7 linked regions of the Homo sapiens genome follow. The protein of the gene in region 5 purifies or fractionates together with the protein of the main gene of each other region. This does not show direct contact. Each region holds a gene or a part of one and is shown on either strand. Other genes may lie near its edges.

Region 1 (3,500 bases), on a different chromosome or scaffold from region 5:
ATATAATCAACAGGAAAGAATAGATAATTTACATTATTTATTAAGTCTTTGAAATCCAGGGTGTATTTTAGTTACAGCACATCTTAATTCAAACTAGTCACATTTCAAGTTCTCAGTGGCCACATATGGATGGGCAGAGGCTACCATATTAGATAGCATAGGTCTAAGCAAGTCCAGAAGTATGAGACCCCCCAATAGCTAAACATGAATGGGAGAAAACTTAGTTTCTTCTAAAAGTTGTATTTATTTTTCTGATTTTCTTGAATGCAATGGAAACTGCAACCTGACTTTTAGCAAGCCCCAGGCCATCTCCTTGCATGACTTTAATCACTGGATTTTTCTTCCCAAAAATTAAATCATTGGATCCGGAGCAAAATGTAGATTAGGCCCCTCAATGTTTTTTCCCTTAAATTATAACTGAACCCAAACTCTTCCTGTCATTAATTTTAATATCTTTTTTTTTTTTTTAGACGGAGTCTTGCTCTGTCGCCCAGGCTGGAGTGCAGTGGCACAATCTCGGCTCACTGCAACCTCCGCCTCCCAGGTTCAAGCAAATCTCCTGCCTCAGCCTCCTGTGTAGCTGGGATTACAGGCACGCGCCACCACGCCCGGCTAATTTTTTTTTTTTTTTTTTTTTTTGTATTTTTAGTAGAGACAGGATTTCACCATGTTGGCCAGGGTGGTCTCAATCTTCTGACCTCATGATCCACCCACCTTGGCTCCCAAAGTGCTGGGATTACAGGCACGCGCCACCATGCCCAGCTAATTTTTGTTTTTTGTTTGGTTGGTTTTTGAGACGGAGTTTCGCTCTGTTGTCCAGGCTGGAATGCAGTGGTGCGATCTCAGCTCACTGCAAGCTCCGCCTCCCGGGTTCATGCCACTCTCCTGCCTCAGCCTCCCGAGTAGCTGGGACTACAGGCGCCCACCACTGCGTCCGGTTAATTTTTTGTATTTTTAGTATAGACGGGGTTTCACGTTAGCCAGGATGGTCTCGATCTCCTGACCTCGTGATCCGCCCACCTTGGCCTCCCAAAGTACTGGGATTACAGGCGTGAACCACCGTGCCCGGCCTTCCCCAGATATCTTCAAAGCAACTGCTAGTCCTGCTTTTGCACATTACACTCTACATTCTCATTGCCCCACTTAACTAACCCTCCCTCATGTCCTTTTCTAAAGATGTAGAAGACTTTGAAATAGCATAACATTTAAATGGTCACAAATCACCTGGCTTGAAAGTGACTAATAATAGGAAAATCAGACCTCAGGACTGAGTTCAATTTCAAGATTCTCCCACTCCACTTTGCTAAGAGGGAAACAGAAAAACATTACTCCAGCCACACAAATATGATACTGTGCAAGTATCCCACTCTTACTCATTCAAATCCTACCCATTTTTTCCCATCGTGGAACAGAGTCTTGCCAACTTATACCTCTCTCCAATAACCCATAAAGATGGTGATTTGAATTTGGGCCAAGATTTAACATTTTATGAAATACAAGAGGAGAGTTTTCTGCAAAACACAGGATTTGCAGACAAGGAGACTTAGGTTCAAATTCCAGTTCTGCCATTTATTACCTCAGAGAGGTCATACAACTTTCCTGAAGTTGTATGACCTCTCTGAGCCTTAGTCTCCTCGTTTGTAAAATGAGAGTTAAAATCTACCTCATGGAATCATTGCTAAGATTAAGCAAGATATATAAGTAGAGCTTGTGCACATGGTAGGTACTTGGAGAATGTTATTTCTCCTTCCCTCTTACTCATCTGGACAAGTTTAACTAGAATTCTAAACAGTTAAATATGTATCAATCCTTTGTATTAAATATCTTGATGGTAAAATGTTAAAATATTGATGTGAATAACAGCTGGTATTGAATATTCAAATTAGGGGAACTCTTTCATTGTTTTAAGATAACATCTGTACATTTAATCTGTGCCATGCAATAAAACAGCTTTTCCTGAAACAGCTTTTTAAAAACTATTTTTAAGAAATTCATAAGTTACTTTTAAGAACATTAGCTTAGAACATCTTCCCCTTTCACAACAAATTAGACATTAGAGCCAAAATTGCCCAAATTGGTATAGTTTCTATCTCCCTACACTTTAATCAAGATGTTTGTCTTTATATCAGCAAAAACCGCTACTTAAGTGAGATTCCTGCATCCCAATAAATGTATCTGGGCATTTGGTACTTGAGAGAGGATTGGGTTTGACAACACCCAGAAGCTAATGAGGATGTGCCTTCTCTCAGACCTTTGCATTCAGGAGCAAGAAAGCAGAAATACTTTGTGGACTCCTTTTCAGACACTTTACAAAATACAAAATTTTAACCTTGTGAAACACAAAATAAATGCAGGATAAATGTCCAAACATTTTAGCCCCTACTGTTTTTGAAACTGAATAAAGCCATGATAGTGAAAAATATTTTCCAGTCAGTGCTTTTTGGAAGCTATTTAGTAGATATTAATTTGATGGGTTAGAGATTGCTATTATCCCATTAAATGAAGCTGTTTCTACTTCATATTCAAATATATTTCAAGTTGAACTTGCTTAAATCTAAAATGCTTACACAAGCAAACTGTGGAAAGAATTTAGTCACGCAAAAGAAAACTTTTTCTTAATCCTGGATAAGTCAACTCTAAGAAAGCTGTCCAGAGCCTACAGAGCAAAAAGGACTTTCCTTCCAGCCTCCTCACCATGTCCAATCTAGTCCAGATGTGAAGAGTCAATTTTGGTTTTAAACAAAATTTGCATGCAGCAGCATTAGAACTAATGAAAACAGTATCCAGACTAAGACGTGCATACAAAATCTTTCACATCATGAGAAACTAAAAATTTGTTAAAACATCAGTCGGCAGGAACAGACATCTCAAGCTCCACTGATAAGGGAAGCAAAACTGGAACTACATGCCGCTTTTAAAAGTGTCTCAAATTTAAGCTCACTCAAGGACTATTAATAGACAGTGTCAAACTGACATGCCGTTTCATCATTAAATCATCTTATTGGTTTGCAAGTTTCCAAGCCTCAGGGCTTCATTATGCATCAGCATAGGACAACACCAGAATTTGGGGACAAAGACAACATCCCTTTTTGAAAGAGGTGGTAAGAATAAAAACAGGTTGGCCAACCTTGGAAGCCACCGCAGTATGGCTTCCCATGAACCAAAAAGGCAATTGAATTGTATTTGTTTTCAAGGCATACGTTTGGAAAAATAGCACTTTTTCCAAGCATGTGCTTAGTTAGAACAAATGATTTATTGCTTAAAACCCAGTCTTTTACTCACACGCTTGTGAAAATAAGAAGAAATTACCTATTTCACCATAGATTATTAAATGGACGTTAACAGTTATTGACAATCGAGTCTTGTGATAAGAAATTAAAATTATAAAGTAAATCTTCCCGTCTTTAAATTCTAGGTGGTAGAGTTCTGAGAACACTTACAATGAACTTTAAGGGAGTAATTGATTATGCTTTTGAAGTCTCCTATATTCACATATTGGC
Region 2 (3,500 bases), on a different chromosome or scaffold from region 5:
AAGCCCTACTAAAAGAAGCAAGAGAAAAACAGAAATGAGTAGATGTATATAAAGCATTTTGCCACAGTGCCTGATACATAGTAAGCACTCAATAAGTAGTAGCTTTTATTATAACTAAGGCTGAAGAGGATTTTAATGCTTTGTAGTGTCAGCTTCAGTAAGATACGAAGAAAATTGGGAAAGAAGATAGCACATTTATCTCTTAACACTTTATTGACAACTTTGTAAAGATATGGTTCTAAAAGCAGTTAATTTGGGTCCTCTAAATAGAGCTAGGGTTTTTTCTATCCATAGCTTCATGTTAACCACAATTACTGGATTTCTTTAAATATGTTTGTTGTTGTTTGGGTTTGGGTTATATATCAAGAGCAATTTTTATACCTTACTGATAAGAATGATGCATTTGTCCAAAAGCCAAAATAAATGGAAATATTACTCTTTGCCGCTAGTGGATCCAGCATCTGTGATAGGGTGTGCTCGCAAAGATTTCCAGTCACTGTCTTTCTCTTTACTGTTCATCCCTCCCCAAGATCTGCGAAAGGATTACAAAGTACCTTTGAATACTGCTAGATAATTTCATCCCTGGGAAATATTTTTGCTTACTGTATCAAAAACAGATTTGCTGTTTATGAAAGATTTATATAATTTCAATATTGTATTAGTTAGGACTCTGTCTTGCAAGTAACTGAACCCAGCTCAGACAGGCTTAAACAGTAAAGAGATCTTATTAATTTATATAACTGTACAGTTGAGGCACAGCTTGACCCTGGATTTAAGACACATGACCATGATCTGATTTTTTTATTTTTATTTTTGGCCTGTCCCAGGTCTCTTCCTCAGCATTGGCTTTATTTCCATGGCTTCAGCCTATCTGCTAGCTCTCAAAAGAAATGGAGGACTCCCTCCTTACCCTTCGTTCCCGCCTTTTCCCTGACCTTTTTTTTACCCAGCCAAGGGTTTTGTTCTCTGAAAATAAAAACCTCCATGGGATCATTTTTTGCTTAGGTCCCTTGTCATTTACTAAATGAGCTGCCCTAAATGTACTCTTTCCTTCTAACCATATCTCAAACTGTAGATCAGAACAATTTTTCTTTGTGTTAGACCTCTCTGTCCTCCTAGGAAAAACAAAACAGGATATATTTTTTATTCTATAGAGAACCCAAACCATTGTTCTGTACTCCTTATTCCCAAAACATGAGGCTTCAGGTCATTGAGACCTTGTGGTTGTAAGTTTCCGTTGTTAAAGAGTTGAAAACATTAAATGAGTTCCTGAAAAGTTGGCTTGATTTGCATGTACATTAGGCCCTAAGATGTCATCCCAGAAGGTTCTCTGTGTGTGTACTGTGTTGCTAAATTATTGATTGTGAGTTGTCTTACTTTTAACTAGTTTGTTTTTTCTTTTGCTTATGCCCATTTTGTTCTTTTGTGTCTGAACCTTGACTTTTTTTAGCCAAATAAGTGACATTTGGAGATAGCTATGTTGGTAGCAGACCGTTTGTAACCATGTAGAGCTGTTGTTTTATATGAAAGAGATTTTCTTCTTTTTGAAATCAGCATAGTACATTTTAGTTCTGCTTTTTCAAAATTAATTACTTTGATTTTATTATTGCATAAGCTTCTTTAATGGATACCCTGTAGTTTTGTTAGGCAGATTTTTTTTGAAAATTGATTATACTCTTTCAAAAATTCTTAGTTGCTAAAATAGAGTTGTTCCAGTGCATCTTTTAAAAGTTATAATCAGTGTTTATATTAAGTCTAATTTGTTCTGCCTTTTATCAAAAGTAGAATTCTTATGGATTATTATGAATTCACTTGAAAAGACTTGGTTTAAGAACTTTCCAGATTCATTGACATTTCCAATACATTATCCAGTTGATTTATCCTTAGCATACGAAAAAAGGCAAAATAATAAACAGGGATTTAGAAACTCAGTATGATCACAACTAATAGGGGAGAAATCAGAAAAACAAACATGATTGCTAGAATATTTGAAATCAAACTTTATATGATATGCTGTATCATTTATAATTTATTATAAACCCAAATACTTAGGTATTATTATCTCTCTTTTATGGATAAGGAAACCATTTATCTCGGGGTGGTCTAACTGCTTGAAAGTCAAATACAATGTAATGGAATCAAGATTTGTTCCAAGATGTAGGATTCAGCAGCCTGTGTTCTTACTATTACTTGAAATTGCCTTTCAGAAGTACTGTCAGGTCAGTTAATGAGAAATGGAACATGTACATATCTGCAGGTAAAAAGACTTGTGGCCTCATTTTTAATTGGCAAGCTGGTAAATGAGAAAAATGTAGAGATCAACAGATGAGAGGCTTCCATTTCAAAGTTTAGGTGTGAGCACATTCTGTGGTGTTCTCTTTTTGCCCCCAGTGACAGAAAAGATGTTTTTAAAGTGAGTTGATCAGTATCTGCTTTGGACCAGAAGAATTGGATCCATCAAACAAGAAATGATAAGGAAACCTTGAAAGACAGAAAACAAGCAGGGTAGGGCCAAAGAAGAAATTCCCAAATAAGAGCAAGAGAGTATTGTTGCAAAAGGCAAGAGCTGATCCAAGGCCACGCCCAGAGGTGCCTAGTACCCCCAAGCAACAAATGGAGTGACAAGTTGGATGCACTTCAGGAAGAAGCAAATTAAACCCAAAAGGAAAGACTGAGATGCAAGAAGGGGAATGATAAGTAAGAAGTTAGTGTGAATTAGTATGTGAATAACTCTAAACAAATATTTAACACTGAAGTTTTTAAAAAATAAGCTAGAACCAAATAAGGTAAATAATATGAGATGATCAAAGCTTCTGGTATTTTCACCAAATCCAGAGTACCTGAGAAACATGGTAAAACTAGCAAGAAGAAACAAGGGAAAGGAGGCAGATAATTAATGCAGGCTCAAGAAGCATCCTTGAAGAGGTAGCAGCAGCAGAGGAGTGAGAGTGTGAAGAAGCTGATGTGAGTGTATGAGACAGACACTCATAATAGAAAAGTAGCAACTGACCAGTACAGCAGTCTGTGGAGAGGCCAAGCCCAATGCCTGTTTTTATCAAAGCAATAATAGGCAGCCTGTATAATCATGTGTCATTTAGAATTATAATTATCTCAGTGAAATAAGGTTCCCCTTTATTTGCCCTAAAAAATCTTAACCAGGAAATTTTTGGAATGAAAAGGATATTTAAAAGGTGGTATTAAAAAGTCCTTCAGTTCAAAAGTTGGCAAACTTTTTCCTAGGCATACCCTTTTTGCGAAGGCATGCCTTTGCAAACTACATGGTCACTGATGTAACATTGCCATAGACAATACATAAACGGATGGGCATGGCTGCATCCCAGTAAAACTTCATATACAAAAACAAATATCCAGGCCATGTTTGCCAACCCCTGCTCTAGCTCATAAATAGTTTGGAATTTATAAGGCACATCGTTTTAAAACCCTAACCCTCAGTGGTAAGATGATGCTTCCCTAAGTGCTACAAGGTGAGTGTGTATCCT
Region 3 (3,500 bases), on a different chromosome or scaffold from region 5:
AGACAGGGTCTTGCTTTGTTGTCCAGACTGGAATGCTGTGACATGATTACAGCTCACTGAAGCCTCGACGAATTCTCCCATCTCAGCTTCTCAAGTAGCTGGGACTACAGGTGCATGCCACCATGTCTGGCTATTTTTTTTTTTTTTTTTTTTTTTGGTATATTTTGTAGAGACAGGGTCTCGCCATGTTTCCCAGAATGGTCTCAAACTCCTGGACTCAAGCAATTCTCCCACCTCAGTCTCCCAAAGTGATGGGATTACAGGTATGAGCCACTGTGCCCAACCATAAAGTGCTATTTCATTGTGGTTTTCATTATTTATTTCTTGATGATCAATGATGTTGAGTATCTTTTCATTTGCTTGTTGGCTATTTGTATATTTTCTTTGGTGAAATGCCAATTATTTGTCTTTTTTATTATTGACATGTGTTTTTGTAGAGCACCCAATCCTGTTGCTGTTTGGGGTGCCACTGTGTAACCCACACGGACCTATGGGACTGAATAAAGGGGGGCAAACGCGGGAATAAAAGACAAGAGACAAAAGAGTATATTTGGAAGAAGGGGTCGGGGGCACCTTGCCTCTAGTGGACAAGGGCCCTGAGCTTTACACAGCCCTCCATATTTATTAGGCAAAAGAGATAGCAAGAAGTGGAGGTGGGTGGGGGGTGGGTGTCGTCAGCAGTTTGATTCACGGCAGGTTTGTAAGACTGCATTCTTCAAACAATAGGCGCTAGATTTCTCAATAGATAACTTTAAGGAGCCCACTGCCAGGGAGTGAGGCCCTCAGCAAACCTTTTGGTGGCAGGGCAGTATCAGTTTGCCCACATTCTGCATTCATGATAAACAGTTTGCTGTTTGATCATATAGCCTCCAGCGGAATGCTTAGTTGGTCATGATCCCTTTGGCCTTTTGAGCTCCCAACATGTTTTTAACATATTCTAGATGAATCTCTTACTGGATGTATTTTTTCCTATTTTGTAGGTTGTCTTTTGACTTTCTTTTCTTTTCTTCTTTTAGGTACAGGGTCTTGCTCTGTTGCCTAAGCTGGAGTGCAATGGCACAATCAGCTTACCACAGCCTCAAAATCCTGGGCTCAAGTGATTTTCCCACCTCAGGCTCCTGAGCAGCTAGGACTACAGGTGTGCATCACCATGTCTGGCTATAAAAAAGAATTTTGTAGAGATGGGGTCTCACTATGTTTCCCAGGATGGTCTCAAATTCCTGGCCTCAAGTGATCCTCCGGCCTTGGTCTCCAAAAGTGCTGGGATTACAAGCATGAACAACTGTGCCCAGACTTGATTTTCTTTCTTAAGCCCCACATTTGAACTGATGGTCTTGACTTTTTGATACATGTTTTTGTAAAGCACACAAGTTTTTAATTTTGATGAGGTCTATTAATTTATTTTTCCTTTTGTTGCTTGTGGATTTGGTGTTATTTCTAAGAATCCATTGCCATATCCAAGGTCTTAAAGATTTACCCTTGTTTTCTTCTAAGAGTTTTAGTTTCAGGTCTCACAAATGTAGTCGTCTGAAACATTCTGAATTATTTATATGGAATGAATTAGGGGTTCAACTTCATTCTTTTCTATGTGGATCTCCAGTTTTCTCAGCATCATTTGTTGCAAAAACTATTCTTTCCCCATTAGATGGTCTTGGTATGTTTATTTTAAATCAATTTACTCTAGATGTATAGGTTTATATGTGAGTCTCCATTCTGTTCCATTGACCCAAATGGCTATTTGTTATTCAGCCTGACTACTATAAAAAATACCATAAATTGGTAACTTAAACAACAAAAATTTATTTTTCACAGTTCTGGAGCTGGCATATCCAAGATAAGGTGCTGGCCTGACTGGTATCTCGTGAGGGCTTTCTCCTTGGGTTGGAGATGTCTGCCATCTCTCTGTGTCTTCACATGGCCTCTCCTTGGCATATGCATGTGAAGAGAAAGAGCTCTCTCTCTATTTCTGTTCTTATAAAATTACCAGTTCTATCACATTAGGGCCCCACCCTCATGACATTGTTTAACTTTAGTTAACTCCTTCCTATAGGCATTATCTCTAAATACAGTCACATTAGGGGTTAGGGCTTCAACATATGAATCTGGGGGAGACACAGTCTGTCATATGCCATTACTACACACAATCTTGATTACCGTAGCTGTGTAGTAACTTTGGAAGCCAGGAAGTGTGAGTCCTTCAACTTTGTTCATCATCTGAAAAACTGTTTTGGATATTCTGGGTTCTCTGAATTTCCATATTAGTATTAGGATCAACTTGTCAATTTCTGCAAAGAAGCCAGCTGGAATTTTGATGGAGAGTGAATCTGTGGAATCTGTACTTCAACTTAAAGGTATTGGCATCTTATCAATATTAAATCTTCCAATCCATGAATATGTGTTTTCTTCCCATGTACGTCTTTTAAAATTTCCTTGAACAATGTTTTATAATTTTCTTTCTTTTTTTTTTTTTTTTCGAGATGGAGTCTCACTCTGTTGCCCAGGCGCAGTGCAGTGGTGCGATCTTGGCTCACTGCAAGCTCCACCTCCCGGGTTCACGCCATTCTTCCGCCGCAGCCTCCCGAGTAGCTGGGACTACAGGCGCCCACTACCCCACCCGGCTAATTTTGTTTTTGTATTTTTAGTAGAGATGGGGTTTCACCATGTTAGCCAGGATGGTCTCGATCTCCTGACCTTGTGATCCATCTGCCTCGGCCTCCCAAAGTACTGGGATTACAGGTGTGAGCCACCGCACCCGGCTATAATTTTCATTCTTGTATTTCTTTTTAAGAAATCTCTAAATATTTTCTGATTCTATTGTAAATGGAGTTATTGATATCATTTTTTTGCTGTTTGTGTATTTTGTTTTTTTGAGACAGAGTTGCGCTCTGTCACCCAGGCTGGAGTGCAGTGGTGCAATTTTGGCTCACTGCAACCTCTGCCTCCCAAGTTCAAGTGATTCTCCTGCCTCAGCCTCCCTAGTAGCTGGGATTACAGGTGCGCATCACCATGCCCAGCTAGTTTTTTGTATTTTTTAGTAGAGATGGAGTTTCACCATGTTGGCCAGGCTGGTATTGAACTCCTGGCCTCAAGTGATCCACCTACCTCGCCTCCCAAAGTGCTGGGATTACAGGCAGGAGCCACTGTGCCTGGTCTGATTTCATTTTTGGATTGTTCATTGCTAATGTACAGAATAACACAGGATTTTTGAGTATTTATCTTGTATCCTGCAAATGTGCTTGCCTATTTGTTCTAATAGCTTTATTTGTGGATTCTTTAGGATTTCCTACATACAAGATCAGTAATTTAAGATAGAGCTTGTTTTACTTCTTCCATGCCAATCTGGATGCCTTTTATTTTTTTCTTGACACATTGCACTGGCTACAACCTCCAGTATAATATTAAATGTAAGTGGATATAGCAAACATCCTTGTCTTGTTCCTGACCTTAGGAGGGAGGAATTAGTTTTCAGCATTCCATATATTAGGCATGGGTTTTTCATA
Region 4 (3,500 bases), on a different chromosome or scaffold from region 5:
CAGTGTGGGACCTGCAGTTAGATGATGAGTCTGTCAGGGGTCCCCCAAACCATAGCAGAAGTTTCAGTCAGTAAGCAGGCAGTGGGACAGTAGCCACGCAAACAGTTAGTTCAGCTCACAATAAGGACGTCTTGTAAATGAGACAGCCCCACCTCAGACCTACATGCTTCCTGCTGATCTCTTTGGAGAGATCAGAAAGGAACCTGGCCACAGTGAGGAACTTGGGGTCAGGACCCAGTAAATGAGGCTAGATCCTAATGTGACAGCTCTCCAACTTAAGGCTAGTGCACCCCGTTGTCTCGTTTCTAAAATATCATTGACATCTCCAGTATTTGGTTGGCTTCCTAAGTCAAAGCCTCAAGATCAGTGCATATGGAGGAATTTGCCCTGGCACAATTTCTGTCCGCCTTCTGAAGGACAATTTCATCTCCCCGGTGAACTGTATTTATATTAGACCAGGATTCTGCTCCTAAGTCTGTGACATATTTTGAGTATGAAGGGGTCCTGAAAACATAGTAGTAGCTTTTGCTTAAAAATCAAGGTTCTTGAAAGAAAAACCTATTGCCAGAGCAAGCTGTATGTTATCATTGTTTTCAGATGAACTCTACATTAGATGCAAATGATTTAATAGACTTATAGGCTGTTGGAGCTAAAAGGACCCTAGAGATCATATAACCCAACCTCATTTTTTTCATGTGCAAAATTAGCTTCCAGAGAATTTAAATGATCTGTAGAAGGGCAGAACCCAGACCAAACAGCCCACTCTTAAATTCAAAACCAGGGTATTTTTCCTGTCGTGTCAGATCTCAGATGTGGGTGAGCATCAGAATCCCCTGAGGGGTTTGCTTAAAATGTACCCACCCAATCCCCATCCCTGGAGATTCTGATTCAGAAGGTCTGGGGTGAGGCCTGGGCATCTGAACTTTGACCAAATTTCCCAGGAGACTCTGTACCCAAAGTTTGAAAACCATTGCTCTTAGAGCCCATTGGCCTGAATTGCATTAAAGGTCTTTGACCTTTCAGAGGTCCTGCCAAGTCCTTGTTTTCCATCTTTTGGGAGATGGGGAGCTATCACTCCCTATAGGTCAAAGCTACCTGGCAGAGGTCTCATCAGACCAACCCTAGGAATGAATCTTTAGCCTTAAGAACAAATTGGAAGATGATGTGGGAATCAGATGGAAGCCTTGAAAAGAGATCCCCTTCCCCTCTTCTCTTGCTCCCATTGAAACAGTAGGTGACCCCAGTCCCCTGGCTAGCTCACAGCTGTGACCAGACCCTCCCTTGGTTCTACTGCTCCCAGTCACCCTGCTTCTCTCCCCGACCCACATCAGGGTCCCCCCGATGTACACGGTGGCCACTTTCAGAGAGCACGAAGATAATCAAGAAGGTTAACTTTCTGGGAAGCCCCCCAGGAGCATGTTTTTATTGTGTTCGAAAGCTGCTTTATCATTATCGCTTGATGACATTTATTAATTGCCCAGCTGGGATGCTGGTCACAGGGTGACTGACACGTGGGTATTTCATAATAGATTTCCCATTTTTTTGGTAGGGCAGCCCTTTGAATTTAGAGTCAGATCAAAGCAAACAAAATTCCAAACTTTAAATTTCCTATCCCAACCTCTTCCATCATAGGAATCCTTTTCTAAACCACTTTCTGAGAGTAATCGTTGCTTCGTGACATTTTCTCTTTTTTTAAATCTGAGTTTAATAGAAGAAATACTACCATGGTAATAGATTTTCATTTTTCTTAATAGGTATTTCTTTTCCCATGGTCATCCTTCAATTAGAACTGCAGTATGTTAGTGTTTTGTCTGTTATTGCAGCCAGCTGTATAAACAGTTAATTACTTGTAACTTAATTTGAATATTATACAGAGCATTTGTCATAGAAGATATAAAACAAGATCCAGGCAGAAAAAAGTTAACTTCTATTTCCTCCAAAGCAGGAGGAACAAAGAACAAACAGCTCTTGCTGCAGGGGAATAGACACATATTGAAAACAAAATAAGTGATCTAATCAGATTTCCAGGTAGTGAAGAACAGTACTTGGTGCACAGGCAAAACTCGCTTTGTGCTTCCCATAAATTCAATTTATAGATGACTTTTCCTTCCTGTCTTATGCACAGTCTTCTCATTCTGGCTTTTTCCTCATCGAAGCTCCAGTGTCTCCCACTCCCCACTTTTCCTGACCCTCCTTAGTAAAACTCGTGTCTTAAGACCAGGTCTGTGCCAGGACACATCTCCAGTTTCATTTTTCCTTGGTTAGGTAGACCTTCCTGCTTCTCTACCCAGCTTTATGAGGCCTGAAGTCTTGGTGAGGCGCTGGGTAAGTTCATCCAGAGACAAGCACCCTGAGTGGTATCTTAAAAAACAAACCGCTTTTCTTCTCTTCATGATGATTGGTTAGCAACCCAGGGTTGCCATCATTTCTCTTAAATTATCAACACAACCAGTAGCTGGCATGCTGCTATGATAGTCAACCCCTCCAAGAAAGCTGTGATTCAAAAATCAGTTGATGAGATTACTGCTTAACAGAAATATTTGAGGCAAGCGGTTAGGATGGTTAGTAAGGTTTTAATAAGCGGAAATGACACGCAATCTCAGGTCTCCAGGGGCGCTGTTCTTATTTGTGAGCTGCCGGTTGTTCTTCAGTGGCTGGAATGAGAAAAAGACTTGGGAAAAGAGCAGTGTTCATGCCTGAACCACTCTCTTCTTTTGGTGATTTACCCAGCTGTTTATAAAAGGAGTTTCTGCAGGCCCAGATACGTGAATGATGAGCAAAAGCAAGGAATTTCTTTCTCCACATTAAGATTAAGTGTTAGCAGTTCCTTAAATGAAGGAAGCAATTTTTTATAACTTGCAAAGCTTCTCCCTCATTCTTTAGGGAATTTCCTATGTTAATTTATGCAGTGTTAAATTTATGCAGCGTTGAAATTCAGCCCAACAGCAGTACTTACGGAACCAATACAGAGACAGTAGAACCTATAAGGTGAAAGCTGAATAACACAGACCCCACCAGACTACGGATCCCTCCAGCCAAAAGCCCTGAGTTCTGAGTTGGAGCAGGTTTTGTCGCATAGCTGGAATATAATAATAACCCAAAATGTTTGACAGATGAATTCATCTTTTTTAAAAATCCAGCCTGCCATTGTGTTTGTTAATTTCCCTGATAGAATTGAGATGGTTTTGTACCACCCCTGCCACCCTTTGGTAGCAAGTGAGTGCAGTTTGACAAAATGTTTATAGATCAGCCCTGGTGCTTTTCTGTGGTGGTCCCACATGTCTTCAAGGAGTCACCACAAATCAGCTGAACCACTGTGCTATCTTGGAGGATTAGAATTTTAATACATGTAACGGTATTTTGTGAATGTGGCTAAAGGGGTTATTAAAATGTTACTTCTTTTAGTGTCTTTATGTGAGACTGGCCTGCTCATCCTCAGACCAGCCAGGCCCCATCTTGTCTCTTTCTGAAAGAGAGCCTAACATTCTTAGCATGATATG
Region 5 (3,500 bases):
AGACTTCTCCTTTCATAACTCCCGGAAAGCCTTGGGAAGAGGCCCGTAGTTTTATTATGAATGAGGATTTCTACCAGTGGCTGGAGGAATCTGTATACATGGATATTTATGGCAAACACCAAAAGCAAATTATAGATAAAGCAAAGGAAGAATTTCAGGAGTTGCTTTTGGAATATTCAGAATTGTTTTATGAACTGGAGCTGGATGCTAAGCCCAGCAAGGAGAAGATGGGTGTTATTCAGGATGTTCTGGGAGAGGAACAGCGATTTAAAGCATTACAAAAGCTCCAAGCAGAGCGTGATGCCCTTATTCTGAAACACATTCATTTTGTGTACCACCCAACAAAGGAGACATGCCCCAGCTGCCCAGCTTGTGTGGACGCTAAGATTGAGCACTTGATTAGTTCTCGGTTTATCCGGCCGTCTGACCGGAATCAGAAAAATTCACTCTCTGACCCTAACATTGATAGAATCAACTTGGTTATATTGGGCAAAGACGGCCTTGCCCGAGAGTTGGCCAATGAGATTCGAGCTCTTTGTACAAATGATGACAAGTATGTGATAGATGGTAAAATGTATGAGCTTTCCCTGAGGCCAATAGAGGGGAATGTCAGGCTTCCTGTGAACTCTTTCCAGACGCCAACATTTCAGCCCCACGGCTGTCTCTGCCTTTACAATTCAAAGGAATCGCTATCCTATGTAGTGGAAAGTATAGAGAAGAGTAGAGAGTCCACGCTGGGCCGGCGGGATAATCATTTAGTCCATCTCCCCCTTACATTAATTTTGGTTAACAAGAGAGGAGACACCAGTGGAGAGACTCTGCATAGCTTAATACAGCAAGGTCAACAAATTGCTAGCAAACTTCAGTGTGTCTTTCTCGACCCTGCTTCTGCTGGCATTGGTTACGGACGCAACATTAATGAAAAGCAAATCAGTCAAGTTTTGAAGGGACTCCTGGACTCTAAGCGTAACTTAAACCTGGTCAGTTCTACTGCTAGCATCAAAGATTTGGCTGATGTTGATCTGCGAATTGTTATGTGTCTGATGTGTGGAGATCCTTTTAGTGCAGATGACATACTTTTTCCTGTCCTTCAGTCCCAAACCTGTAAATCTTCCCATTGTGGAAGCAACAACTCTGTTTTACTTGAACTACCAATCGGACTGCACAAGAAGCGGATTGAACTGTCTGTTCTTTCATACCATTCCTCCTTTAGCATCAGAAAGAGCCGGTTGGTTCATGGGTACATTGTTTTTTATTCAGCCAAACGTAAGGCCTCTTTGGCTATGTTACGTGCCTTTCTTTGTGAAGTGCAGGATATTATCCCTATTCAGCTTGTAGCACTCACTGATGGCGCTGTAGATGTCCTGGACAATGACTTAAGTAGGGAACAGCTAACTGAGGGGGAGGAGATTGCTCAAGAAATTGACGGAAGGTTCACAAGCATCCCCTGTAGCCAACCCCAGCATAAACTTGAGATCTTTCACCCATTTTTTAAAGATGTGGTGGAAAAAAAGAACATAATCGAGGCTACTCATATGTACGATAATGCTGCCGAGGCCTGTAGCACCACCGAAGAGGTGTTTAACTCCCCCCGGGCAGGATCACCGCTCTGCAACTCAAACCTGCAGGATTCAGAAGAAGATATCGAGCCATCTTACAGCCTGTTTCGAGAAGACACATCACTGCCTTCTCTGTCCAAAGACCATTCTAAGCTCTCTATGGAACTGGAGGGAAATGATGGGCTGTCTTTCATTATGAGCAATTTTGAGAGTAAACTGAACAACAAAGTACCTCCGCCAGTCAAACCAAAGCCTCCTGTCCATTTTGAAATTACAAAGGGGGATCTATCTTATTTAGACCAAGGCCATAGGGATGGACAGAGGAAGTCTGTGTCTTCTAGCCCCTGGCTGCCTCAGGATGGGTTTGATCCTTCTGACTATGCTGAACCCATGGATGCTGTGGTGAAGCCAAGGAATGAAGAAGAAAACATATACTCCGTGCCCCATGACAGCACCCAAGGCAAAATCATCACCATTCGGAATATCAACAAAGCCCAGTCCAACGGCAGCGGGAATGGTTCTGACAGTGAAATGGACACCAGCTCTCTAGAGCGAGGGCGCAAGGTTTCCATCGTGAGCAAGCCAGTGCTGTACAGGACGAGATGCACCCGGCTGGGGCGGTTTGCTAGTTACCGGACCAGCTTCAGCGTGGGGAGTGATGATGAGCTGGGGCCCATCCGGAAGAAAGAGGAGGATCAGGCATCCCAGGGTTATAAAGGGGACAATGCTGTCATTCCATACGAAACAGACGAAGACCCGCGGAGGAGGAATATTCTTCGCAGCCTAAGGAGGAACACTAAGGTAAGACACCAGTCTAGGATTAGTCATAGTGTTTTGTACAGCGTCTCGGTGAGGGTTGATTGATGATGATTTTTCAAGGACAACCTATTCTGGTAAAAAAAAAACTGCCCTGTGTGTGTATTTGACTTAACATAAAAAAGCAGTGCCTCAATTAGCTACCATTATTGGCAGCTCTCAAGTAGTTAGGACTTTGGATAGATAGTCTGAGTTGTTGTTGCCTAAAACAATAGTTAATTAATTAGCAAAATGAGGAGATAATGCAGAACTTGTCAGTGTCTTGACAAGTGGCCAAGCGCAGTGACAATACACTTGCTCTCCCTTCACTGAAACACCAGAACTCAAAACTGCTTGCCGCAGTCTCTCACTGCTAAACATAACATTTCATCCATACATCTCTTAAATGATCCTTCCTCCCTTGCTGATCTGTAAAGGTTGCTGCATTTGAGATTGGTGAAGGATTGGATGATGATTTGCACACACAAATCAGTGACGAGTCTTTGAGTACATAAATGAAAAAAGAGAATCTTGCCACTGAGAGTTATAAACCTGTCCCGTATTTGTTAAATTGGAATACCATCCAGTCTATTATTTTATCTTCAAGGGAGTTGCTGCTGCTATCAGTCAGAAACTCGGATTTTATTTAGGGATCACAAATGGTGCAGGGAGAGAAAAGAAAAAGTTAACTGTATACATTATAAACATTGGGCCTACTCGTCATATGTAGAGACAGGAGCAAATGAAGTCTCTTTTTTTTTTTTTTTTTTTTGAGACGGAGTCTCGCTCAGTCACCCACGCTAGAGTGCAGTGGCGCGATCTCCGCTCACTGCAAGCTCCGCCTCCTGGGTTCACGCCATTCTCCTGCCTCAGCCTGCTGAGTAGCTGGGACTACAGGCGCCCGCCACCGTGCCCAGCTAATTTTTTTATTTTATTTTATTTTTTAGTAGAGACGGGGTTTCACCGTGTTAGCCAGGATGGTCTCCATCTCCTGACATCGTGATCCGCCCGCCTTGGTCTCCCAAAGTTTTGGGACTATAGGCGTGAGCCACCGCGCCCGGCTGCAGATGAAGTCTCTTATCCTGCGTAGAATTGTAGTTTGTAGTCTGCAGGGCAGAGAGCTGTAAGCAGTACTCTGTCCCCTTG
Region 6 (3,500 bases), on a different chromosome or scaffold from region 5:
CGCCTCATCCACCACGGGCGCCTGGTCGAAGCCCTTCTCCCGGAGGATCTCGATGGTGTGCCCACAGGTGATGGTCGGGAGCACGGTCAGCGGGGCTGACAGGCCCAGCTCCTGAACACGGAGGTGCCACCACCTGAGGGAAGAGGGCAGGTCGGGGGGATCAGGATAAGGACAAACGCTCTCGCACCCCCGCCGGCAGCACCTCAGCAGGAGGCCACAGGGACCGCTCTCCTGCCTGTCACACTGGGCAGGGCCAGCACAGGCCACGGGGACCGCTCTCCTGCCTGTCACACTGGGCAGGGCCAGCACAGGCCACGGGGGAGTGCTCTCCTGCCTGTCACACTGGGCAGGGCCAGCACAGGCAGCGGGTCTCCGGCCGAGCGGTCTTACCAGGGCTTCTTCTCCGTGAGGTCCTCCTCCTTCAGAAAGCCCTTCTGCAGCATCCACCTGTCGCTCAGGAACTTGGTCCTGCGGGATGGGGGAGTCACCGAGTCCCCGCAGGGCCCCACCGGGCCCCCGCCCCTGCTGAGTGGCACGCACTGCCTGCCCAGCCCCTCTCCTGGACCTCACTGGTGCAGCAGAGACCCCCAAGTGCTGGCTGGAAGCCCCAGGGGGAAGCCTGGGGGCTGGACTTCCCGCCCCCATGGCCAACAAGCGTGTGTGAGCATGCACACAGCCATCGCTCAGGCACTCAGATAAACACGTCCTCTCATGCTCGCTCTCTGCCCCTCACACACTCACACGCACAGGTACACATGGCAGGCTGGCCAAGTATGTGGGGAGATGGTGTTCTTGCACTGACGGGGGTGGGCAGGAGCCCTGCACAGGGCATCTTGACCCTGGGCACCAGATGTGAATCACCCCACACTGGGGAACCCAACTGGGGGCACCCACCAGCCAGGCCTGGCCCTCCAAGGGCAGCTGAGCTCTCGGGAGCTGTGTAGCCGCTGCAGCTTGCAGGCCATGGAGGAAACCCTGCAGGTGCAGGGGACAGGGCATGGGGGTCTGTAGACACCCGCCCTGGTACCGCCTCCGGAGACCAGGTGCAGAGCAGCGCCAGTCTCAGCCTGGCTGCCCGGTGACCAGCGAGGTCTGTGGCGTTACTGTCCGAGGGGCCTCTGGGCAAAACAGTCACAGCAAGTCCTAGGGGGCCACCTGGGCAGCACTCGGTCCCAATCTGGAGTTTGGGGGAAGCAGCAGAGGGAGTCAGGGTGGATAGGAGGTGGCACAGGGCCCGGCCCAAGAGGACGTCAGTCCATGTGGCCAGGGCTACCCGTTGGAGCTCACGGACCCCAGAGCAGTGAGGGGGACAGACACCAGAGAGGAAGGGACAGGAGGGACAGAGAGGGAGCCACCGTCTTTCATGCCCCTCCTGTCAGGGCTGTCACTGCGAGTGTGCATTGATTTTCACAGCATTAAGAGGCTGGGAAGCCCCACAGCGTGAGGGCACGTGGGCAGGAGAGTGGAGGCGGTGCTCACAGGGCCCCGCTGGCCTCCTCCCCTCCCAGTTCTGGCTGCCGGTTCTCAGGTGAGGCGTGAGAGGCATCCAGGGAAGGGTGGCAGGATGGAGAGGAGCAGGGACCTGGGAGGGAAGCCGTGTCTTACATGTAGTTCCGCACTGAGTCGGGCAGAATGACCACGCAGCGCTGGCCCTCCTGCAGCTCCTGCGCGGCCTTCACGGCCACCGCCACCGTGCTGCCAGCACTGCCACCTGCAGAGAGGGCCACGAGTCAGACGCGCCAGGGTGAGCGTGCGTGGGTGCACACGTATGCATGAATTGTGCACGTGCACGCATGGGAGCATGTCAGACACACTCCGAAGGATCCGTCAAGAGGGGTTGCCTCGGGGAGAGGGGCTGGGAGGACCCCACTTCTCCGTGAGCATCGGCTTCTTCCTTGTGCACCATGGAGTTTCTGTGTCCACTCGGGGCTTCATAATGAGCTGGGGTGGGCACTGGTGCCAGGGAAATGCCTGCAGTGGGGCTGCGGCCCCTGGCAAACCTCCTGGCCCTGAGCCTAGAGCCAGCGATGCTACGAGGACGGAGCCCCCAGCACCACGCCTGCAGGCTGCCTGACTGCACACTGGGCTCTGCTTTATAAACAAGAGACCAAGGCTCACAGTGACACCAGCTGTCCCTAGGAGCCCTGAAGTCAGAGTCAGAGGCGTCTTCTCTGGGCTTAGTTTGAGGGTGCACACAGCAGTCGGGAAGGTCTAAGTCTGCAGTAGGAGCCCCCACAGGAAGAGAGGCACCCTCCTCTGTAACGGGGCCCATGGACCTGCTTTCCAGCCCCAAAGGCAGGGGCTTGTTTCTCCACCAACATGGGGAGCAGGGAGACTGAGACAGGGAGAGCCCAACGATTATGGGCACCAAGTCACCTTTCGTGACAGATTCATCTGGAAAATGCTTTTCTTTTCTTTTTTTTTTTTTTGAGATGGAGTTTTTGCTCTTATCACCCAGGCTGGAGTGCAATGGCGTGATCTCGGCTCACTGCAACCTCCACCTCCCAGGTTCAAGCAATTCTCTTGCCTCAGCCTCCCGAGTAGCTGGGATTACAGGCATGCACCATTACATCGGCTACTTTTTTTTTTTTTTTTGGTATTTTTAGTAGAGACGGGGTTTCTCCCTGTTGGCCAGGCTGGTCTTGAACTCCTGACCTCAGGTGATCCACCCGCCTCGACCTCCCAAAGTGCTGGGATTATAGGCATGAGCCAACGCGCCTGGCTGGGAAATGGTTTTTCAATCAAGACTTTCTTCCAATCTCTAGTTTGGGGCTCAGCTAACGGGGGACTTGGCCATGCTGAGGGCTGGTTTCCTTCCACTTTCCCTGTCACCACCCCCAAAGTGACATGACACACGGAATGCACATGTAGAAACCTCACATGTCCCTGCCTGCGTTTTAGAAGCTGGTGTGTGCTCTCCGAGTCCCCAGAGGTCTAGATCAACTGTGGTCCCTACAGGGCCTCTGCTGCCTGTGTGGCTAGTCAGTGGCATTGCCAGCGGCCACCTGGTCTGTCCACCCCCAAGCAGGTGGGCAGAGGGGCACGGGGTAGGAGGAAGGTGAGCGGGGTCGAGCTGGACAGCCTCAGGCTCCAGTCCCCTCCCCAGCTGCTCCAGGGTGCTCGCAGCACCCAGTCCCGGCCATGGGCCCCGTCAATGCAGAGCCACCGCCCCAGGGGCCCTGGTGGACTTGATTAGAAACAATAAGTGCCATGAGAGCTTCAGCCTTGTTCTAGAAACACATTCTGGAAGGCAGCTCGAAGCCCCGCCCCATGGCCTCCTGCCCTCACCTGAGCAGGTGACCACACTGGGCAGGCAGACAACACCTGAGGCTCGTGGCCGCCGCAGTGACACTCCTCAGAACTGCTGTCTTACACATGCAGGTCGGTGGCTGACTGAGGGTGCGCCCCCAGCCATCCCCAGTGCCCCCTAGCCATCTCTGCCTTCCCCATACCCCCGTGCCCGCCACCCACTCACCGCACAGCAGCCCCTCTTGCGCGAT
Region 7 (3,500 bases), on a different chromosome or scaffold from region 5:
TTAGAGCCATGAGCACCATAAAGAAATTAGAAAAGGCAAAGAGACAATACTTAGATTGATTAGAAGGCACTGGGACAAGTACCTTAATGAAATGAAGCTGGCTGTACTAACACCTGGAGGAAAAACAGTCCAGGCAGAAGGAATAGCAAACACCAGAATGACTGGCTTGTTCAAGTAATATCAGGGCCAGTGTGGCTGTAATCAACAGACATTAAAAAAGACCATCAAGAGGTATACAGGGGTAAGTCTATGTAGAATATTAGAGACCATGAAAAGAGCTTCAATTTTATTCTCAATGAAATGGAAAGCACTAAACAGTTTTAAGCAAGGGAACAGTGACTTAATTTAGTATCACTTAAACTTTAAAATTAGCCTGGCTGCTGTGTGGAAAAAGAACTTGACTAAAGAGGAACAAGAACAGATGGAATGAAGGAGATCAACAATAGGCTACACAGATGATAAGGGTTGTTTATGGTGGCTTGGATTAGGGTGTTAATGGGGGAAATGATTAATAAAAGGTGAGATTTTGAAAATTTTTTGAAGGTAGATTATAGATTTGCTGATAAGACTGTAAAGGGGAAGTGGGAAAAGTAAGGAATCAAGGCTAATTTATAAATTTTGATAGAGCCATAAACTGAAATGAGAATAAAAAACTCACACAGAGTTTGTTTTTTAAAAAAGATACAAAGCTTAAAATGAAGATGCAAATACATTAAGGAAGTTATGTCTTTCTATTCCAAGTACTAAAATACATATCTGGCACATTGTAAATTTTCTCCCTTCATTCAAGTCCATGATTAGACCTACATGCATAATGGTACACACCATGTGAAGAATTATTTCAATTGTTACATTAAAAATATCAAAGATGGGCACTACTGTTACCAAATGAAATCTTACAGCTTAACAGCACTATAGCAAGTGGTTCCACATACTCACCATTTTATGGAGATCAGTGTCAGGATAGTTCAGGTAATTCAGAAATTAAGTAAGTTGGAAGTGTGCAATGCTTTAGAAGAGGCAATCACGAAATGATATGTGTCACTGAATCATCATGGGAATAAAAAGCAACACTAATTCAACAGGGACCCTTAAGTATCCACTGTTTTTCTGAGTTTATGATGGAAACAGATATTTTAACAGATGCTACTTAGATGTGAACTTTGTATATGCAGTTGTGTATAAGACATAAACCTATGTTCAAGTACTATCTACAGGACACACACACACATATATATGTACATACTGACACATAATGGTCAAGAAGGCTGTTCAGTATTCAATAATAAACCAGTGTTCAACGGTAGTCATATCTATTAGTTGGGATTACAGTAGCTTTTTTATCCTTTTTACTCATCTGTATTTTGCTATTTTTCTACTCTAAATTTGCATCATTGGCCCAAACAAGCAAATTAGTAAATGCATTTGAAATCAATTTTAAAACCATACTACACATAACCTAGGTATATGAGGCATAAGGACAAAATGTTTACAAGACAACAGCCATGCTCATAAGGGCAAAAATATCCAAGAATTTTGAAGTAGAAATGTCCACACACAGACACATAATATGTTCTAAGATGCAAGACTATATTTTTGAAATGCTGTATCAGAAAAAAAAGGGATGGTACTTTATTCCTTATAATTTAAAAACTATGTTGGCAAGAGATATACATTCTTAGTTAATGCCATTTTCCTTTTACCTGTTTTCTCTCTTTAGGATTGAGAAGTAAGTACCGGGGATCAAAAACTATCTTGTGCAACTCCTTCTCCCACGTTGAAAAAGCAGACACCTTTAAAATAAAAACGTATTGCCTCATAATTAAGTCTCCTCTAAAAATATAAAGGTCATAATTTTGCTTGAAATCTACAGGATATCTGTTTATAAAGGAGACATAAAACCATACTGAAGTTTCCATCACTAATAAATGACAAGCAGTGGGAGGCTAGCAATAGCAAATTTCCACACTAATTGGCTCTGAACATTCCTATATTATATAGAAATAACAGACACTTAATTACTCATTAAAATAACTACTACTGTGTGACATTTTAAAAATCAGTACATCAGAAAAAGCCTTGAAGATTTATATTTTGATTTCTCATGCTTGCTCCAATCTTGTGAACAATGTTGTGATTTAAAATTGAACAATTTTACTTATTCAAATGAATCTGTGAATATAACCAAATAGTTGAAATCCCTTCTCAATTAAATTGCAAATAATAATATCACAAAGTATCAGTTCTCCTTTAACAAAAGCCATTCTCAAGATATTAAAGGAAGAATAATCATATATACCTTACCTATCCCAAGCAGTCCGCCATTCTGTAATGTTAATACTCGTCTTATATTACTCACCACAATTTAATGACCCAATAAATGTTAAGTGTTATTTGTACTTAAAAGGACAGTAAAATGGCATTTAGTTAAATATGATAAGATTAGCCAAGAAAAAGGCTGTTGCAAAAAATGTACAGTAATTTTAAAAATCCCCTTATCCCCCCCCATAACATGAGCACTAACCTTAGATTTGACCTTTTAGCAAGACATATTTATATTACTTATACAAAACAGAAATATCTCCCCCAAAGATTGTTTTCTGACCCCTCTCTCTAGCAGCATGTCCTTGAACTGCTTCATTCGAGCCTCCAGAGGGACAATGGCCCTTTCTCGGGCAGCTTTAATTTCAGCTTCCATGGCAGCTTCTTTCTCTGAGTCAATGTCTTTATTATCGTCTCTCCTATAAAAAATAAAATATAAGACATCAACTGACAAAATATTAATTCTCAGATCTTATTAGAAATCTTAAAATCAAAGGAATTTTCAAGACTCACTACTGAGCAGCATATTTTTGGCAAAAACAAATTATATTGAGGGTTTCAAATGAACTCTAAGGGATAAATAACTTTCATAATAACAAAATTAAAATGGGCTTCTAATGATTTACAATGGCTACATTATTAGGAAAAAAATACACCTTTAATGGGCTGTCTCTCCCTGACACTGGTTAATAACATAAAAAGGGAGCAACCTTACTTAAAAAAAAAAAAGTTTAACACTGCAGTAAACCTCTATGTGTCAGAATCAAACAGCACAAAATATAATTTTTTTAGTTCTTGAAATATAGAAAAAACAGTATTTTCCAAAATGTTTTACATTATAAACACATAAAATATTTTGTAAAATCTAATAAAAATTGGTATTAAGTGGTATAATGTTTTAGTAATCTCAAACATTCATTTTAAAAATAAAACTAAAATATCTGCAATCTTGGCCAAGTGAATATGTAAGATATATACCTTACCTACCTGACTTTTTATTACTCACTTTCTGGGTGATAAGTTGAGATTTAAGTTGAAGGACAGGTCCCAGAGAGCAACATGGGCCCAGGAGTAGTTAGGTGGAATTAGAACTGTTCATCAATGACTAAACTACTTCTTGTTCCTCCAAAAATGCACCTCAGGTGTAAGGGCAACCCTGTTTCTGTGTGGTACTCAAG

The links.
Region 1: the proteins of ARHGAP35 (region 5) and MCTS1 purify together in Homo sapiens (affinity purification with mass spectrometry; one large-scale study listed by BioGRID and IntAct). This does not show direct contact.
Region 2: the proteins of ARHGAP35 (region 5) and MTPN purify together in Homo sapiens (affinity purification with mass spectrometry; one large-scale study listed by BioGRID and IntAct). This does not show direct contact.
Region 3: the proteins of ARHGAP35 (region 5) and AAMDC purify together in Homo sapiens (affinity purification with mass spectrometry, with the first as the bait; one large-scale study listed by BioGRID). This does not show direct contact.
Region 4: the proteins of ARHGAP35 (region 5) and CHCHD3 purify together in Homo sapiens (affinity purification with mass spectrometry, with the first as the bait; one large-scale study listed by BioGRID). This does not show direct contact.
Region 6: the proteins of ARHGAP35 (region 5) and CBS purify together in Homo sapiens (affinity purification with mass spectrometry, with the first as the bait; one large-scale study listed by BioGRID). This does not show direct contact.
Region 7: the proteins of ARHGAP35 (region 5) and TCERG1 fractionate together in Homo sapiens (co-fractionation; one large-scale study listed by BioGRID). This does not show direct contact.

The regions. Positions count from the first base shown.
Region 1 is NC_000023.11:120,617,601-120,621,100, reverse strand, and holds part of MCTS1 (malignant T-cell-amplified sequence 1), read right to left. Parts: 3' UTR 1-3,500. UniProt on the Homo sapiens protein: Translation regulator forming a complex with DENR to promote translation reinitiation.
Region 2 is NC_000007.14:135,946,360-135,949,859, reverse strand, and holds part of MTPN (myotrophin), read left to right. Parts: intron 1-3,500. UniProt on the Homo sapiens protein: Promotes dimerization of NF-kappa-B subunits and regulates NF-kappa-B transcription factor activity. Plays a role in the regulation of the growth of actin filaments.
Region 3 is NC_000011.10:77,827,644-77,831,143, reverse strand, and holds part of AAMDC (mth938 domain-containing protein), read right to left. Parts: intron 1-3,500. UniProt on the Homo sapiens protein: May play a role in preadipocyte differentiation and adipogenesis.
Region 4 is NC_000007.14:132,788,591-132,792,090, reverse strand, and holds part of CHCHD3 (MICOS complex subunit MIC19), read left to right. Parts: intron 1-3,500. UniProt on the Homo sapiens protein: Component of the MICOS complex, a large protein complex of the mitochondrial inner membrane that plays crucial roles in the maintenance of crista junctions, inner membrane architecture, and formation of contact sites to the outer membrane.
Region 5 is NC_000019.10:46,919,997-46,923,496, forward strand, and holds part of ARHGAP35 (rho GTPase-activating protein 35), read left to right. Parts: coding exon 1-2,360; intron 2,361-3,500.
Region 6 is NC_000021.9:43,058,836-43,062,335, forward strand, and holds part of CBS (cystathionine beta-synthase), read right to left. Parts: coding exon 3,476-3,500; intron 1,712-3,475; coding exon 1,606-1,711; intron 469-1,605; coding exon 391-468; intron 134-390; coding exon 1-133. UniProt on the Homo sapiens protein: Hydro-lyase catalyzing the first step of the transsulfuration pathway, where the hydroxyl group of L-serine is displaced by L-homocysteine in a beta-replacement reaction to form L-cystathionine, the precursor of L-cysteine.
Region 7 is NC_000005.10:146,481,833-146,485,332, reverse strand, and holds part of TCERG1 (transcription elongation regulator 1), read right to left. Parts: exon of another isoform or gene 2,742-3,500; coding exon 2,606-2,741; exon of another isoform or gene 1,794-2,605; coding exon 1,704-1,793; intron 196-1,703; exon of another isoform or gene 83-195; intron 1-82. UniProt on the Homo sapiens protein: Transcription factor that binds RNA polymerase II and inhibits the elongation of transcripts from target promoters. Regulates transcription elongation in a TATA box-dependent manner.